Regions from separate parts of the Homo sapiens genome. Here region 1 is linked to region 2. Evidence: fine-mapped expression QTL. A gene starts in region 2. The other region holds a variant in brackets. All regions are shown on one strand. Distances are between the middles of the regions.

Region 1 (8,545 bases), 22 kb before region 2:
CCTGGGAGGTGGAGGTCATAGTGAGCTGAGATCATGCCACTGCACTCCAGACTGGGTGACAAAGTGAGACTCCATCTCAAAAAAAAAAAAAAAAAAGAGAAACAAACAAGCCAAAAAACACTCAGTCCATAGCAGCCACCAAGTGTGAGTTGGGTCTGGCTGTGGGCAGTACAGAACCTGTGTGGTGGAGGGAGGGGACAACGCGAGGGCACCGAGGCAGTGACAATTCAGGAGAATGCTACATTTAGGGATCCTGGGGAGGGGGAAATAGCAGACGAGAAGAGAGGGAGGTGGAGGCCATGGACTGTTAGAAGCTGTTCAGAGTTGCTTGTGTATGGCGTGGGAAGCTCCTGTGGGTATCTGAGCTGTGGAGTAGCTGCTCAGGACTGGGCTTTGGGAGGACAGTGCTGGAAGCAGCAGGTAGGGCAGATTGGGTGGGGGAGGGGGCACAGACAGCTGGCAGGGAAATAAGTTTGGAGATGACCATAAATAGCTCTGCTGTCAACGCCTCTCCCACAACTCTCTCCTCCTCCTATTCTCTGATTTCTAATAATGGCTGTGCCATTCTTCCAGCCCCAGGGATGGAAGTCTGAGTCACTCTGACTCCTCCCCCGGCCATGCCCCATGTCAAACCAGCTACAATTCCTGCTGATTCTATCTCCTCTATACCATCTCTGGAGTCCTGCCTCTCTTGGGGGTTCCGCCAGCACCCTGTGTCAGGCCTGTCCCTAGCTCAGGAACTCTTGTCTCCCTTCCCCAGGCTCTATCCCAATACCCTCTCACCACTGTTGCCAAATGTTACTGTCTGCCTATTGCACACCACAAAACGAATGCCCTGGAATGTTGGCTGGATGAAATGTGAGTCCCCGCGGGATTCACTCCTGTAATGCCAGCACTTTGGGAGGCCAAGGTGGGAGGATCACTTGAGCCCAGGAGTTCCAGAACAGCCTGGGAAACATGCTGAAACCCTGTCTCTACAAAAAATGCAAAAATTAGCCAGGCATGCACCTGTAGTCCCAGCTACTCGGGAAGCTGAGGAGGGAGGATTGCTTGGGCCTGGGAGGTCGAGGCTGCGGTGAGCTGAGATTGCACCACTGCACCACTGCACCACTGCACTCCAACCTGGGCAAAGAGTGAGACCCTGTCTCGAAAGAAAGAAAGAAAAAGACTGGTGCGGTGGCTTGTGCCTGTAATTCCAGCTACTTGGGAGACTGAAGCAAGAGAATCACTTGAACCTCGGAGGCAGAGGTTGCCCTGAGCTGAGATCACACTGCTGCACTCCAGCCTGGGCAACAGAGCAAGACTCCATCTCAAAAATAAAATAAAATAAAATAAAATAAAATAAAATAAAATAAAAGAGCCTGGGCGTGGTGGCTCATGCCTGTAATCCTAGCACTTTGGGAGGCCGAGGTGGGCTGATCACCTGAAGTCAGGAGTTCAAGACCAGCCTGGCCAACATGGTGAAACCCCCATCTCTACTCAAAATACAAAAATTAGCTGGGCATGGTGGTGCGTACCTGTAATCCCAGCTACTTGAGAGGCTGAGACAGGAGAATTGCTTGAACCTCGGAGGCAGAGGTTGCAGTGAGCCGAGTCCCACCATTGCATACCAGCCTGGGCAACAGAGCAAGACTCTGTCTCCAAAGAAAAAAGAAAAAGAAATGTGAGTCCCTGACTGCTCCCAGCTGTCCTGTCCGGCCTCCCCCCAGACCTCAGAGCTCTTTGAAGAGGCAGCTAGATGGACGCTCCTCCCCCAGGCTCTCCAGGGGCCCCTGCATCCGAGGTGCTTTTCTCCTTGCCAGATGTTTCAAGCGTCATCTACACTCCTCTTGGGACACTTTCTTTCTTTTTTTTTTTTAAAATAGAGATTAAGGTCTCACTCTGCTGACCAAGCTGGTCTCAAACTCCTGAGCTCAAGGAGTTTGCCTTGACCTCCCAAAGTGCTGGGATTACAGGTGTGAGCCACCACGCCCAGCAGACATTTTTCTCTTGTGCCTGGGTTTATGGTGATTGTATACATGTGTGTCTGGCTCCCAGAGGGTGGGGACGGAGTGATACAAATTTTTGTGCCTCCACAGGGAACTTGCACGTGACCTAAATTCAATGACAAATTGGGGTTTGATTGAAAATGTGGAGGGGTGGAAATTTTCAATTCCACTGACCCCAGATGGGAGGATCTGAGCCCCTTTCCTTTAAACACCATCTTTCTCTGCAGCAGCTTTCAGGGCCAATAGTTACCATCACCAGGAATTCCAGACCAGCACAATAAATAGGGGCTGTGGTTTCTCCCTCTTTCTCCTTCAAAAAGTAACAGAAAAAAAATTAGCCGGGCATGGTTGCATGTTCTTGTTGTCCAAGCTACTGAGGAGGCTAAGGTGGGAGGATCACTTGAGCCCGGGAGGTCGAGGCTTCAGGGAGCCATGATCATACCATTGCACTCCAGCCTGGGCAACAGAGTGAGACCCTGTCTCGGAAAAAACAAAAAAACAGTAATGGAATATGGGCCAGGTATGTTGATTTGAACTGGAGTTTTACTGCTTCCCAGCAGTGTGACATTGAGCAAGTGTGGTAACCTCTACGAGCCAAATGGAGCTGGCATCAGCTGCCTCACCAAACAGGATTTACGGGAAAGGCTGGCGTGGAGCTGGGGCCCTGGGAGGCAGGTAGTTAGAATCCGTTTAAAGATTTTGCCTCAATTGCCTCCAGCTGCTGCTGTGCTTACAAGGCACACAAGTGCTCCCCCTCTGATCCCTCAGCAGGCAAAGACCAGACTCTGGAACACACCTACAGTGCTGCCTCTGGCCAGGCCTCTGAGATATGAGTCCAACATGCAGAGAAAGGGGCAAGTCCTTGGTGGGGGGAGGGGGACAGCAATTTCATTACCGCCATTTCAGAGGTGGCAGTATGGGTGGCTGACATACGTAAGTCTGATTGTTTGGACCAGAAGGATCTTCAGGGGTCCAGTCTTCCAGTTTACAGGTGTGGACATTGAGATCCAGGCACCTGATAATACCAGGTTGGCAGGAAAGTCAAATGCCAGAGGCTTCCATGGTCTCTACTTGTGTTTGGAGCAACAGAATTCTGAACAGAGTCAAAGGGATAAGGGGTCTTTCTGGCACAAGCTGGCCCAAGACCAGGCCTTTGACAGAGGCCTCAGACTCTGGGGGGCCCAAAAGCAGCCCTCCCTTGGGCTCAGCCTTCTGGATCCCATGGCCAGAGTAGTAGTTCTGCCGGCTAGGACTTGGTGAGGGGAGCTTTGAAGTCACTAGTTGAAGGTCACCTTCCTGGTCCAGCTCCACCTGGCAATGTTGACTGTGAGGTAGTGGAGGGGAGGGCTGAGAACACAGAAGAGAAAGGTTGCTCCTATTTGGAGTGAATTAGCGTGACTGGGAAAGCAGAGAAGGGAAAGAGGTCAGGTTTTTCCAAATAAAACCCAGCCCTCAGCTGGTGTCTTAGTTTAAGAAAACAGATGAAGAGAGAAACTTTGTTTGTGGCAGAATCAATTACAACTGTCTTTTGTGGCCAGGTGCAGTGGCTCACACCTGTAATCCCAGTGCTTTGCGAGGCCGAGGCGGGAGGATCATTTAAGCTTAGGAGCTGGAGACCAGCCTGGGCAACATAGTGAGATCCCCCCATCTCTATTTTTAATTAAAACAAACAAACAAACCCATCTTTTATATGCAAACAGGCAAAAATGGAACTGTTTCTACTGTGGCTGTTTGACTACTCTAGGGTCTCAGAAAACAACACCCCAAAATGCAGGCCTCAGGAGCAGCTCTCTCTGACCCTCTCCCTCCCTCCTGTCTTTGGCCCCTCACTCTCCTCCGAGGCCAGCCATAGAAACTGGAATCCTTCTTCCTCAAGGCAGGTCATAGAAACCAGAGCCCTTCTCCCCCAAAGCCAGACATCGAACCCAAAAATATTACTCTTTCTCCCACACATTTCTGGGTAAAAACTGGCCATAAATTATCTGACCTACCTTGTTTGCTTGCAGGTCCTAAGACCCCTCCATCCCAGAGAGAGTCCTGCCCCGTACTCAGAAGGAAGGAATGCTGCAGAGAAAGGTCAAGAAGAATCTACACGGACAGGACTTGCTGGGTTTCCCCACTCAGGTTATTGGCCTTCTGGTCCAATCATATTTCTTTTTTCGTGGTTTTTTTTTTTTTTTTTTGAGACGGAGTCTCACTCTGTTGCCCAGGCTGGAGTGCAGTGGCATGATCTCAGCTCACTGCAATCTCTGCCTCTCAGGTTCAAGTGATTCTCCCGCCTCAGCCTCCTGAGTAGCTGGGATTACAGGCGCGCGCCACCATGCCCGATCAATTTTTGTATTTTTAGTAGAGACAGGGGTTTCATTATGTTAGCCAGCCTGGTCTCGAACTCCTGACTTCAAGTGATCCGCCTGCCTCGACCTCCCAAAAGTTCTAGGATTACAGACGTGAGCCACCGCGCCCGGCCCAAAGTGAGATTTCAACTCTCTCTACACCAGCTGGACCTGACAGCGGACTCGCGGAGGCGCAGACGCCGCCGGCGGTCTTAGCTCAAGAATGAAGCAGCCGCACTGGGCTAATGCGCCTTTGGGTTCAGCCCGGCAGGCGAGGGAAGCAAGAGTTCGCTCAGATTGGCTTTTGGGTTTAAGCTAAAGCGTCAGAAACTGACATCCAGGTTTACATGGGGCATCCTGGAGAGGGTCAGCCTCGCAAGCGGCTCTGCTAATCCCCCAGCCCTGATCCCGCTCGCGGGTCCCGGTGGGTCTCACGCCTGTAGCTCCTGCGGAGCTGGGCTTTCAGCGGCGCCCAGAGAAGCACCAGCCGGGCCTGGCCGCCGGGTCCCGGCTCCCGCGGG[A/T]CGCTGGAGGCGTCGGCGGCCCTGGCCCCGCCTCCTCCCCGGCAAGGCCCAATGGGGCGGCAGGCCCGGCAGCCCCGCCCCGGTGGTGCCCGCGCGGCCAGCGCCCGCCAGGCCCAGCGTTAGCCCGCGGCCAGGCAGCCGGGAGGAGCGGCGCGCGCTCGGACCTCTCCCGCCCTGCTCGTTCGCTCTCCAGCTTGGGATGGCCGGCTACCTGCGGGTCGTGCGCTCGCTCTGCAGAGCCTCAGGCTCGCGGCCGGCCTGGGCGCCGGCGGCCCTGACAGCCCCCACCTCGCAAGAGCAGCCGCGGCGCCACTGTGAGTGCCGCGCGGAGGGTCCAGGCAGGCGCGCGCCCCCAGCTGCGACGTGGCGGCTTCCCAGGCTGGGGCCGGGAAGCACGTCCCGCCAGCCCGCAGCCCGGGGACGGCGGGGTCAGGCGCACAAAGGGCCGCGGGGCAGCTTCGCTCCGCGCTCCCCCGCCCGGCGCTTCCCGGCCGTGCCAGGCGCTGGGGTGGGGACTTGAGGGACGGTGGCAACTGGTGGCCCGGGCGACGGCCAGCTCTGCGCGGGCGGGGGCTCGGGGCTGCCGCGCGCCCCTAGGTATTTCGGGAGGGGGTCCTGAGAGTGTCCCGGACCCGAAGGGTGGCCTGCCCGCCCTGCGCCCCTGGAACGAGACGAGCACCCGTGGGGGGCTGGAGCACCCCGCGCGCTCCCCTGGCGAGAGGGAGGGTCGTGGCTCGGCCCCTGCTCAGACAAAGGCTGGGAGGCGGGAGACATGCACTTCCCCTTCCTTTTCAGCCAGGCGCGCGCTGATACCAGGCCCACGTCAGCTATTTTTGGAGCCTTTTACACGACAGCTGGAGGAGCGTCCTTTTTAATTTTCCCCTTTTGTTTGGCCGCCCCCACCCCCACCCCTTCGCCTTCATCGCTGCACTTGAGGCTCCATCCTGGGGCCTCTCCTTGACTTGACCTGCCTTGGCAGGCACATGCCCTCCCTGCCTGGCTCACTCGCCGCAGAGACCTGGCAGCCCGCGCAAAATGTCACTTTGCGGAATCGTTCCCACGGCTTCTGGGTACCCTTAGTTCCCTGCTTAGGAGGGAAGACAGTAGTCGGGTCGTAATAAGCAAGACTTAGCCCGAGCCTCCGTTGCCAACGCAGGCTGCCTTGCTTGGCGTGTGGGCATCGGCCTGCCCCCTCACCCTGGCTACCCAACACAGCTACAAAAGGCAGGGAACAATGTAGGTCCCTTGGCCCTGCCTAATGCCTGTTGCCATGGAAACCCCTATCCTAATCTGGCCAGGAGCCCCTTGCAGTGAGCCAGGAGAGTGAGGAAGAGGGGATGGGGCCCGCTGGCCCTGACCTGGCCAGAGGAGGTAATGGTTAACCGGATTGTGGGAGCAGCTGACTAGAGCCGGGGGGGTAGGGAGGCTTGGGCCCCAGTCCTACCTTCCCTGCCAAGGAGAAAGGGGCATGTCTGCTTTTGTACCTCTGGGAATCTACCTCAGGGATCTGCCCAACAACTCCCAGGTTCCAAGTGCCCCAGGACCCAAAGATTCCCATATAGCACACCACCTTCAGCAAAAATATGGTGGAAGTTAGCCACATTCTTTAATTCTCCCTTTTTTTCTGCCTTGATGGTAAAAAAAAAAAAAAGAAACAAACAACCCGAAAAACACACACAAACAGGAACACAAAGCGCCTTTTAAGGGTCCTGAATTTGGATACAGAAAAAGCAGTCAGTTGCAGGCCCTTCTAGAAGTCCCCATGTGGGTTGGTTATGAATGGGGAAATTGCTTGGTGTTGGAGTTGGACATCAGACTCTACAGTTGCGACTCTGCCAGCTTGTTACCTGGCAACGCAGCTGGAGACAGAATACTTGGCATTCCCCTTGATGACAAGGAAAGAATATTTTGGGGCTAAAAGAGCCCCGTGTCTTTGCTGCCTGGTAATTCCTGCACGCATCTTTTCCTATTTTGCAACGCCATAGGCTTCCAGCGACTGCTGGTGATGTTTCTGGTAAGTTAGAGCTTGGGGCAGTGCGGACCAGTTCTGTGAACGGCTCAGTGGCAGAATTACTTATCTAGCCTTCCTTCACTCCTAACCCAGAAACTTCTTAATTCTTGCCCCTTAAGTGTGCAGATCTTTCTGCCACGTCAGATAAGGCCCTAGCTGCCCTGCCAGAGCTGATTGGGGTGGTTGTGTTTAGGCCTAGTAGGTACTGAGGAAAAGCCTCTTTGGAATGGCTGAGGCCTGCTCCCACATCTTCTGTGTGAAGTTGAGGGCCCTTGGGCTGGTTCCATTCAGGGTATGAGGTGCTGGAAACTGCTCTCAGATTACTGGAAGCCAGGGTCTGTGGCCTTCCCTGGGGTTTATACTCTGTAAACCCATGTTAAAAATACCAGCAGATTGCAAATATTAGTACACTGTAGGTTGTAAGCTTCTTCAGGGCATGGGGCCTATTGCTGGAGAGAGATGCCACCCGTGTACATCTGGTGCAGGCTGCTGGTAAGAACTCACTGGCCCCTGTGTGGCAATGCATACCAGATGGGTGAGAGGGGAGGAAACACATTCAGTGAAACAGAAGGTGAGGGCAGGGCAGCCCTGACCACAGATGGAGTTGACTTCAACTTGACCTTTATTTATGTCTTTGACAAAAGTAGTATACTCCTACTTTGTGCCAGACACCATGCCGGGTGCTGGGGATAGAGCTGGGAATAAAACCAGCAGAGACTCTTTCAAAACCCTTAGGAGCTCAAATTCTGATGTGGGAGGGGGCAGACAGTAAGCAAGATAGATGTTGACTAGTATGATATATGGGTACAAGAGCTAAGGAAGGCCAGGCACTGTGGCTTACACCTGTAATCCCAGAATTTTGGGGGGCTGAGGTGGGAGGATTGCTTGAGGCTGGGAGCTCCAGACCAGCCTGGGCAATATAGTGAGACCCCATCTCTACAAAAATAAAAAATAAAATTAGCCAGGCACGATGGTGCATGTCTGTGGTCTTAGCTACTCAGGAGGATCATTTGAGCCCAGGAGGTCAAGGCTGCAGTGAGGTACAATTGTGCCACTGCACTCTAGCCTGGGTGACAAAGCAAGACCCTGCCTCCCCCTTCTCCCCCCAAAAAGAGAAGAGCTAAGGAGAAACAGGCAAGAAAGGTGTGTGCACAAAAGTTTGTATAGGGCAGCCAGAAAAGTCCTCACTGAAGGAATCGCTGAGGAGGGGAGGAAGCAGGCCATTTTCGGTATTGGGGGAAGAGGGACTCGCAGGTGCCAAGGGCATGATGGAAGAGCAGAGAGGATGGTGCGAAGGCTGGCTCAGCAGGCACCAGGTGGAGTGACAGGATGAGGTTCGGCAGTGGGGTCTGTAGAGGGCTCACAGGCCATTTTTGAGAGCTTTCGCTTTTACTTTGCAGGGTTTTGAGAGGAGTATCGTTACCTGATTTCCATCTTATCGGGAGCATTCTAGCTTCAGGGACCTGGCAAGAGAGGATGATGGCTTGGACCTGGGTGGTGGCGCTGGGGATGGTGAAGAAGTGGTTGGATTCTGGATATATTTTGAAGGAGGAGCCAGTAGTGGGGAAAGGTTCCAATTCAGGCGATTTTACATAAAAATCTAGATACGCAGCAGGCACTCACTTATGGCAAGGGTGGGCTTGTCTGAGGGTGGCTTCTGGTTTTGGTGGTTTGGATGTGAGAGAAGGGAAG
Region 2 (8,545 bases):
CAGGCTGGGTGGCAGGCTGTGGGGGACCACAGGACTCTGTGGCCTCTTGGGCCCTGTGGGCCACAGGCTGTGGGGCGCCTGGAGCTGGTGACACAGATGGATGTTAATGTGCTGGTGATAGCCACCCTCCAGTGCCCTCCAGCCCTGTGCTGGGCCCTGGAGACCCACAGGAGGGTGAAGAGACCTGGAACAGTCCCTGTCCTCCCAGTTGCAGCTGGGGGAGGCTGAGTAGAGCCACGAACTATGGCAGCTACAATATTGGGTTGTAGAGGGCAGCAGGGCTCAGCTGGGTGGCCCCAGGAGAGGCGAGGCCCTGAGAGAAAGGCTTTCTACCCTCCAGGCTTTGGCTCCCTTGGCCTGATGACGTCCGTCCTGGTCTGCCCTGATGGGAAGACGATTGAGGCTGAGGCCGCTCATGGGACCGTCACCCGCCACTATCGGGAGCACCAGAAGGTGAGTGCAGGGCATGGGGCCTCACAATGCCCCTCTACCCCAGGGGCCTAAAGCCCACTGGGCTGAGGGCTGGAAGGACGAGCCTGACCCACCAGCCCAGGGGCGGGCAGCTGTATCTGGGCAGCCTCCTCACTAGCTGGCTCGGCTCTTGATCTCCCTGCAACCCCCGTCCCCAGGGCCGGCCCACCAGCACCAACCCCATCGCCAGCATCTTTGCCTGGACACGTGGCCTGGAGCACCGGGGGAAGCTGGATGGGAACCAAGACCTCATCAGGTGAGCATGGAGGGAGAGGCCGGAGCTGCCCAGGACAGGCTCTGGGTCCTGCCCTTGCACAGATGGGGTCTCATTCTGCCCCATCCCCATAGGTTTGCCCAGATGCTGGAGAAGGTGTGCGTGGAGACGGTGGAGAGTGGAGCCATGACCAAGGACCTGGCGGGCTGCATTCACGGCCTCAGCAAGTGCGTGGCCTGGGGTGGTAGGCAGACCCTGGGGCCATGTGGGAGGAAGCCAGGGGACCCCTCCTAAAGTCCCCCTCATGAGTCAGCTTAGCTGCAAGGGGGCCTGGGGCAGGACATGTCCACAGCCCTGAGAGACTGCTCAGGCCAGCCTCTGTAGACCAGGTCTAGTGAGTTCCTCCCCATCCCTGAGGCTGGCTACTCAGAGCTCCTTCCGACCCTGCCCACACCCCTTTCCCAGCTTCTCTCAGGAGAGCAGTTACCTGGCAAGACAGACCCTGCGGGTGCCTGCCGAATCTCGGTGGCCTCATGGTAGGGGGCTATAGCTGGCCTCTGGCCTGTAGTCTGGGTGGCAGGAGATGGCTGTTCTGATGCCCAAGCTCAGGCTGTTCCCTGGAAGGGCCTGGCTGATGGCCTTGGCAAGGCCTGGAGCCACCCCTGATGTGAGTGGTGCTCTCTCTGCAGTGTGAAGCTGAACGAGCACTTCCTGAACACCACGGACTTCCTCGACACCATCAAGAGCAACCTGGACAGAGCCCTGGGCAGGCAGTAGGGGGAGGCGCCACCCATGGCTGCAGTGGAGGGGCCAGGGCTGAGCCGGCGGGTCCTCCTGAGCGCGGCAGAGGGTGAGCCTCACAGCCCCTCTCTGGAGGCCTTTCTAGGGGATGTTTTTTTATAAGCCAGATGTTTTTAAAAGCATATGTGTGTTTCCCCTCATGGTGACGTGAGGCAGGAGCAGTGCGTTTTACCTCAGCCAGTCAGTATGTTTTGCATACTGTAATTTATATTGCCCTTGGAACACATGGTGCCATATTTAGCTACTAAAAAGCTCTTCACAAAATTGTCTGCTGTGTTTGTCCCTGAGGGGAGGAGGTAGTGGGACCCTGAGGCAGAGGCCCTGCTAGAGCTGGCAGGTTCCCCTGGGGCAGACCAGAGCACCTCAGGAAGGGGCTGCCACGGCAGGGAAGGGACCAGGCAGCCCTGGGAGCCCGCATTCCACAGGGGCCCACTGCGGAGTTCTCGGACACTCAGGGCACAGGCCTGTGGGTTCCCTGGAATTTTCTAGCATGATCCAGTTTCTGTGTCCAGTTCTCCATTCTGAGAGTCAATCAGTTCCTGATAGGTTGTCATTGATTTTTTTCTTCGTTGGTTTTAACCTTCTAAACATCTCCAGGCCACTTTCTTAGCCTTTTTCTAGGTACTAAAAAGAGGTCCTACCCACACCTGCCTCACACTTCTCCTTTCCAAGGCTGCCTGAGTTTGGAGGGGCTTGGGTGTGTGTGAACAAGGGCCCTGCATTGTCTAGGCCTGCAGTTCCCAGGCTTGGGTTCACTTTCACCATGCATTGGCAAAACTAGAAAAGTAAGCTTGTGACAAATTGTTCTCGGCCGGGCACAGTGGCGCACGCCTATAATCCCTGTACTTTGGGAGGCTGAGGTGGGTGGATCACTTGAGGCCAGGAGTTCGAGACCAGCCTGGCCAACATGGTGAAACCCCATCTCTACTCAAAATACAAAAATTAGCCAGGCGTGGTGATGCGCACCTGCAGTCCCAGCTACTCGGGAGGCTGAGGCAGGAAAATGGCTTGAACCTGGGAGGCAGAGGTTGCAGTGAGCCGAGACTGCACCACTGCACTCCAGCCTGGGTGACAGAGCAAGACTCTGTCTCAAAAAAAAAAAAAAAAAAAAAAAAAAAAAAATTGCTCTATGCAAGTTTTTTAGCCCCATGTAAAAAGGAAAAATAAAAGTTGCTCTAAAGCTACATATAATCAAAAGGACTGTCCTCTGCATAGTAAGTTCTGCAAAGCTTCTTCTTTTTGGTGTTAAAATGTCCTGGAGAAGAGTTGTATAATCTTTATAAAGTCCTGGCCAGGTGTGGTGGCTCATGCCTATAGTCCCAGCACTTTGGGAGGCCAAGGTGGGAGGATCACTTGAGCCCGGGAGTTTGAGGCTGTAGTGAGCTATGACTGCACCACTGTACTCCAGCCTGAGTAACAGAGTGAGACCCCATCTCTCAAAACCCCATCTTACAAAGTCCCTTTCCTAAATACTGGGGGGACTCCTATGGCTCCTGAAACCCGACCATTGCGGTAGACTGAGTGGCTTTGGAAGGGCTCTAGCCCTCCATCCACACTGGTGACCCCCCGCTTGCTTTTCCTGAGTAATGCCCTGAAACTCTCAGGGCTATAAGAAGAAACGTGGACTGCTGGCTCTAGCAGGCCCAGCCCCTGGGAGGAAGCTCAAGGCTTCCTGCCTCTTCTTGCCTGTCACCAGCACGGGGCTGGCAGCTCTGCAGAACGCAGCCTCTGAAGCCCAGCCTGGCATCGGGAGCTGGCTTCTTTCCTGAAGCCATGTGGGTGGGTAGGGAGGGGAAGCAGCTTTTCTCTGCAAGTGGTGGGAATACAGGGGCCGTGGCCCACACCACTCTCTTGGGCCCGGGGCAGCTGGCTATAGGCGCCTGGCCCTGCAGGGGGCCATTCCAGTGCAGAGGATGGTCTCAGCCTCCCCCGGGCCCTGGGAGAGTGCAGCCCTGCTGTGTGGGGCTGGGAAGTTTTGCTGGGAGTTCCTGCTGGGAGTGAGGGCCAGGTCCCCAAGAGCTGGGGAAAGAAGCATTTGCAGTCACCTCACTAAAGAATATTCATTTATTTATAATTATTGCTAAGTAAACTTCTCTTTTAAACAGGAACATAAAAACACAGTAGGGCTTTGCACAAGTGGAATCTCTAAACAGTTGGTTTGTATACATGTCAAAATAAGTTAGAATGGAATTTGTCCAGGAGTTTCCAAGTCACCCGAGAGGCTGTGCACCTCTTTTGAGAAGGTTAGGGAGGGGTACAGACAGGAGCCTTGCCAAGACCACCCCCCAGCTCAAACTGTGAGTTGTGCTGTTTCCTCCTCCTAGCTTTGCCCAGGTCCAAGGCACAGGGCAGGGGGCGTTCAAGTATCGAACCTCACAGAGGGCCAGTGCTGACGGCGGGGCTGGGGGAGGGAAAGGAGAGCCCCACCCTGGGGGCCAGACCTTCTCCCTTCAGTTTCCAAGACCAAGGCCACTGCACTGGCAGGAGGGAGGAGGAGGAGGAGAGGTACAGGGTTCTTTTTGGTACCAGGGGAGAAAGACGTGGGAAGAGGTAGTTGCAGGGGATGATGCCTTCTGCTCAGCAGGAGAAAATGTCTTATACAGTGACGGGGTCACTGCCACCTGAGGGTCATCATGGCGGGCACCTGGGAGGTCGTGGGGCTTCGGGGTCTGGAAGCCATACTTGGGCCACCTTGTCCACCCCTCAGTCCTGATCACAGTCACCCTGAGGCCTGGCTTGGTCCTTCACTTAAGGATCCAGCCTTGGGGGTGGCTGCGCTGCAGATTGGTTCCTCCCACCGCAGGCTGTTCCCTTCTCCGGGTTTCTAGGCTGAAGCTAGTGGCTTCATCTGTGCCTTTGGGGAAGACCCCTGCTTGCCCCTCCCCACTGAGGCCTCAGGAGGCAAGTGGGTGGGGGGGTCCGGGTGCCCTAGAGTTCCTGAATGTGCTATTTCACTGCCCTGGGCCTGTCATCTCTGGTTCCAGGGGCAGGAGCTGGCGTGGGAACAGAGGGGAAGAGAGCAGGCGAGCGAGGGAGCTAGCTGTTGGCTGAGCAGAGTCAGCAGCCCTGACAGCCGAGGATGGGACATGGGACAGAGCAAGTCAGCGACTGCAGGAGCCAGGCAGGGGTGGAGGGCTTCCCAGCTCTGCCTTCTCCTGCCTCCCACCCCAGCCTGCTGAGGCTGCTGCCAGCGGCTGCACCTCCAGGGCCAGGGTGACAGTCCCCATGGAGCCCCAGTCCTGCCCGGCCAGGCTGCTCGGGGTGGGTGGGTAGGAAGCACGCACAGCACATTAGGAAGCTTACGCTTGGAAAAAGAAAATGCATCTCCATCAGAAAAGGTCATAGGTGACACACAGTTGGAAAGAAAAAAATAATAAGTTACCTTCAGAAGACCCCCTTTGCTCAAAAAAACCCTTGATTTCCCTCTGTGGGCTTTACTTTCCTTTTTAAAATACGTTGCTCTTTCCGGGAAGCTGCTGACTCGTGGCTATCCCCGTCGCAAGGTGGACACTGAGGAATGAGAAATGACTGCGGTCCCCCTCCCCGACAGGTGGTCCTGGGCCTCCCCCAAGGACAGCCCTTCTTGGTCCCCTGTGATGCCCTCACTCCGCCCTGCCCTGCCCCATGCTTCTGGTTTTGTTAGTGTGTGCCTGACGCGGGGCCTGTCCTGGCTTTGTTCCTAGTGGGGCCCCCTGGTGAGGCACTCCAGCTAGGGTCGAAGTGGACGACATGTGTTGCAATCCACTGTAGGGACACTCACTTCCAGAAAGGGATGTAGGACAGGGGTCTTCTGGGGGCTGGGTGCCCCCCAGCTGTCCTGCAGGCCAGGGCCAGGGCCACGTGCACACCTGGCTTGAGGAGCGCATGGGAGACCCCGGGAGGTAGAAGGCAGAGTGCCCTGCCTGGCGGTCCGTCGACAGGGCGGGGAAGGGGGCCTGGACAAGGTAGAGGTGGGCAGTACTGGCCAGAGGGGAGCTCAGACATCCTTAGAGGCAGGAGTTGGCCGTGAAAAAGACATGGCTCAAGTGGTCTCTTCTTCCAGTGTCAGGACCCCTGAAGAGCTCTGCTGGGCCTGGAGAGACCCCGAGGGCCGGTGCCCTTGTGACCTGTCCCCAGTGGCCCCACTTCTCCCACTCCCCACGGAAGCAGGCCAGGGAGACCCAGATCTGGGCCTCGCGTGTTCTCCTTCCCTTGCTGGGATGCCTGGGCCTGTGCTGGCTCACAGCCGGGGCCAGTAGTACAGTCTCCATTTGGTCTAAAGGTCCCTAGTGGTGCAAATGACTCGGGGAGGGAGGGCTCAGAACAGTGGGGCAGTAGCTTGTTTCTCGGCTGCAGGAGGTGCAGCCTGCAGCCCATGGGTCTCACCCCCATGCCCTCGCCCCCGGCCCCCGTTAGGGGTGGCCCAGCTTGCGCTATAGCACATTGTAGTAGGCCATCTCTTTCATGGCCTGTTCAGTGAGGACACTGGCCTCGGCGCTGCTGTCCACGCTCGCATAGCTGTAGGCGTTCTCCTCGAAGTCCTCCATCTCCTGCTGGCCGTCGAGCTCTGAAGGGTCAGTGCCTGTCAGCTCCATCATGGGGTCTGTAAGAGAGGGGCACAGTCAGACCTGGCTGCCATCTCTCGGGAGGAGCCAGTCACCCCCACGCAGGAAGCTGATGGCCTTTCTAAAGAGAGGGCTTCCCAGTCACGGCCTCCAGGAGTCTCAGCTGCCTCTCAGCCTTCCCACCCTCGGACGCCTCAGGGTCCTGTGGCTTCTAGCTGGGTGACCAGACCTAGGCCCCAAAGCTGAGTGTGGGGGAGTGGGTGCTATCAGTGAGGGCCTTTGTGGTGGAGAACTGCAGGCCTGGCCTTGAAGCCTTCTTTGGGTCATTCTTCCATTGACCCGTCAAAGTCACTAAGCCCTACTTATCCCTTCTCTGCAATGTTTCTCTGGCCACGGGAAGCTGCCTGCGTGACATCACCTTTGCAGCACTCATTAGCACCTGCTGCATGCCAGCCACTTCGCAGGCCTCGCCTCATCCAGCAATCACAACAGCCCCATTTAGCAGCTCAGAAGGCTGAGGTTTAGAGAGGTGAATCAACTTGCCAAAGGTCACCCAGCACATGCTGTTGTTCTGAGCCACTGTGCTGCTCTGCCTCACACTGCGGGAGGGTGAGGCCTCCTGCCGGCAGCTGTGCTTTTCTGTTGGTTCTAGCCATTGGTATCCTTGGGCCTGGCTCTCCAGGGACAAACACTCAGGGTAGGTTCATAAAGATATGTCAGGCAAAAACTCCTAAGAGGCCCCTTATAATTTTATAAAATTGAAATCTCATTATAAAGCTCTTACAGGGGAAGCCCAGGGTAGGATCTGGGGGAACTGGGAGGCTGGCAGGGGCTGTGGCTGGCCCCCAAAGTGCATTCTGGCCCTGTCCGCTGAGATGTGCGTGTTTTGGGGGAAACAGACCCCAGGCTGGGGGCAGCCCTGACAGGTCTAAGGCAGACTTTCTCAACCTTGGCACTTAGGGCCATAATTCTTTGTTGTGAGGCTGTCCTGTGCATTGTAGGATGTTTGACAGCATCCCTGGCCTCTACCCATGAGATGCCAGTAGCATCACCCCAGTTGTGACAACCATAAATGTCTCCAAACATGGCCAACTGTCACCTGGAAGACAAACTCATGCTCAGTTGAGAACCACTGGTCTAAGAGTAATCCCATCCCTTCCCAATTAGTGGTTCAGGAATAGGCACGTGACCCAATCCTGTTGAATGGGTCATGAGGAAAGGCCTGCTAGTAAGTTCTTAGCACCTTCTCATTGGTGTCAGAGAGCTAAGGGGAGCAGGCTGTCACTCTTCCACTGGATGTGAACAAGGAAGCACACACCCTGACGGCCACTGGCAGCCATCTTGTGACCATGAGGATATTCGCAGCTAATGCTGTGGACAGAGGAAGCCTCACCCTGATGTCACTGTTGGCAAGCTGAATCAGCCAGCTCTGAAGAGGGCCTAGACTTTGAACCATTTCTTTTCTCTTCTTTTTTTTTTTTTTTTTGAGACCGAGTTTCGCTCTTGTTGCCCAGGCTGGAGTGCAATGGTGCAATCTTGGCTCATCACAACCTCCACCTCCTGGGGTCAAGCGATTCTCCTGCCTCAGCCTCCCAAGTAGCTGAGATTACAGGCATGCGCCACCATACCCGGCTAATTTTTTTTGTATTTTTAGTAGAGACGGGGTTTCTCCATGTTGGTCAGGCTGGTCTTGAACTCCCAATCTCAGGTGATCCGCCTGCCTCGGCCTCTCAAAGTGCTGGGATTACAGGCGTGAGCCACTGCGCCTGGCCCCATTTCTTTTCTTTTTTTGACAAGGTCTTGCTCTATTGCCAAGGCTGGGGTGCAGTGGTGCAATCATGGCTCACTGCAGCCTCAAACTCAAAGTGATCCTCCCAACTCAACCTCCCGAGTAGCTGGGACGATAGGTGTGCGCTACCACACCTGGTCTTGAGCCATTTCTTAATGGATTTCCTTATTGTTTAGGCCAGTCTGAATGGGTATCTGTTACTTGTGCCTGTAGCATCTAACCCACTGTGAGTCTTCCGGACTTTATAAAACAAGGTCACTTGACCCATATCTTATAGATTTGGGCTGTTTCTTCCCTCAGTCCTAGTGCCACACCCTCATGTTACACAGCTGGTTTCAAAAACAAGCTAAATAAAGCACCTTGGGGGCCAGGCGCAGTGGCTCATGCCTGTAATCCCAGCACTTTGGGAGGCCAAGGCAGGCAGATCATGAGGTCAGGAGATCAAGACCATCCTGGCTAACACCGTGAAACCCCGTCTCTACTAAAAATACAAAAAAATTAGCCGGGCGTGGTGGCAGGCGCCTGTAGTCCCAGCTACTTGGGAGGCTGAGGCAGGAGAATGGCGTGAACCCAGGAGGTGGAGCTTGCAGTGAGCCGAGATCGCGCCACTGCACTCCAGCCTGGGTGAAAGAGCAAGACTCCGTCTCAAAAAAAAAAAAAAAAAAAAAAGCACCTTGAGAAAATTTCTACTTGTGGATCTCTGTACACCGTCCCCATTTTGTTTAT

The links. PIP is the estimated chance that this variant, and not a neighbour inherited with it, causes the effect.
Region 1: its variant is fine-mapped to the expression of ZNF710-AS1 in tibial nerve (GTEx, PIP above 0.99). The same link has a PIP of 0.9 or more in fibroblasts.

Annotation. Positions count from the first base shown.
Region 1 is chr15:90,098,887-90,107,431 of GRCh38, reverse strand. It overlaps IDH2 (isocitrate dehydrogenase (NADP(+)) 2), which reads left to right and starts at 4,964. Exons shown (of 11, transcript NM_002168.4): 1 at 4,964-5,156. The coding sequence starts at 5,042. IDH2-DT (IDH2 divergent transcript) reads right to left here and starts at 5,300. Exons shown (of 3, transcript NR_149130.1): 1 at 5,054-5,300; 2 at 3,980-4,052. RefSeq lists silencers at 4,754-5,213, 5,534-5,603, 6,094-6,183, 6,244-6,293 and enhancers at 4,828-5,682, 5,683-6,538. The variant A/T (reference allele first, on the strand shown) is at 4,843.
Region 2 is chr15:90,077,183-90,085,727 of GRCh38, reverse strand. ZNF710-AS1 (ZNF710 antisense RNA 1) reads left to right here and starts at 3,521. Exons shown (of 2, transcript NR_146321.1): 1 at 3,521-4,289. It overlaps ZNF710 (zinc finger protein 710), which reads right to left. Exons shown (of 5, transcript NM_198526.4): 5 at 3,537-6,068. The coding sequence ends at 5,899. It overlaps IDH2 (isocitrate dehydrogenase (NADP(+)) 2), which reads left to right. Exons shown (of 11, transcript NM_002168.4): 8 at 341-453; 9 at 630-727; 10 at 820-912; 11 at 1,375-2,683. The coding sequence ends at 1,462. RefSeq lists enhancers at 749-1,249, 1,250-1,750.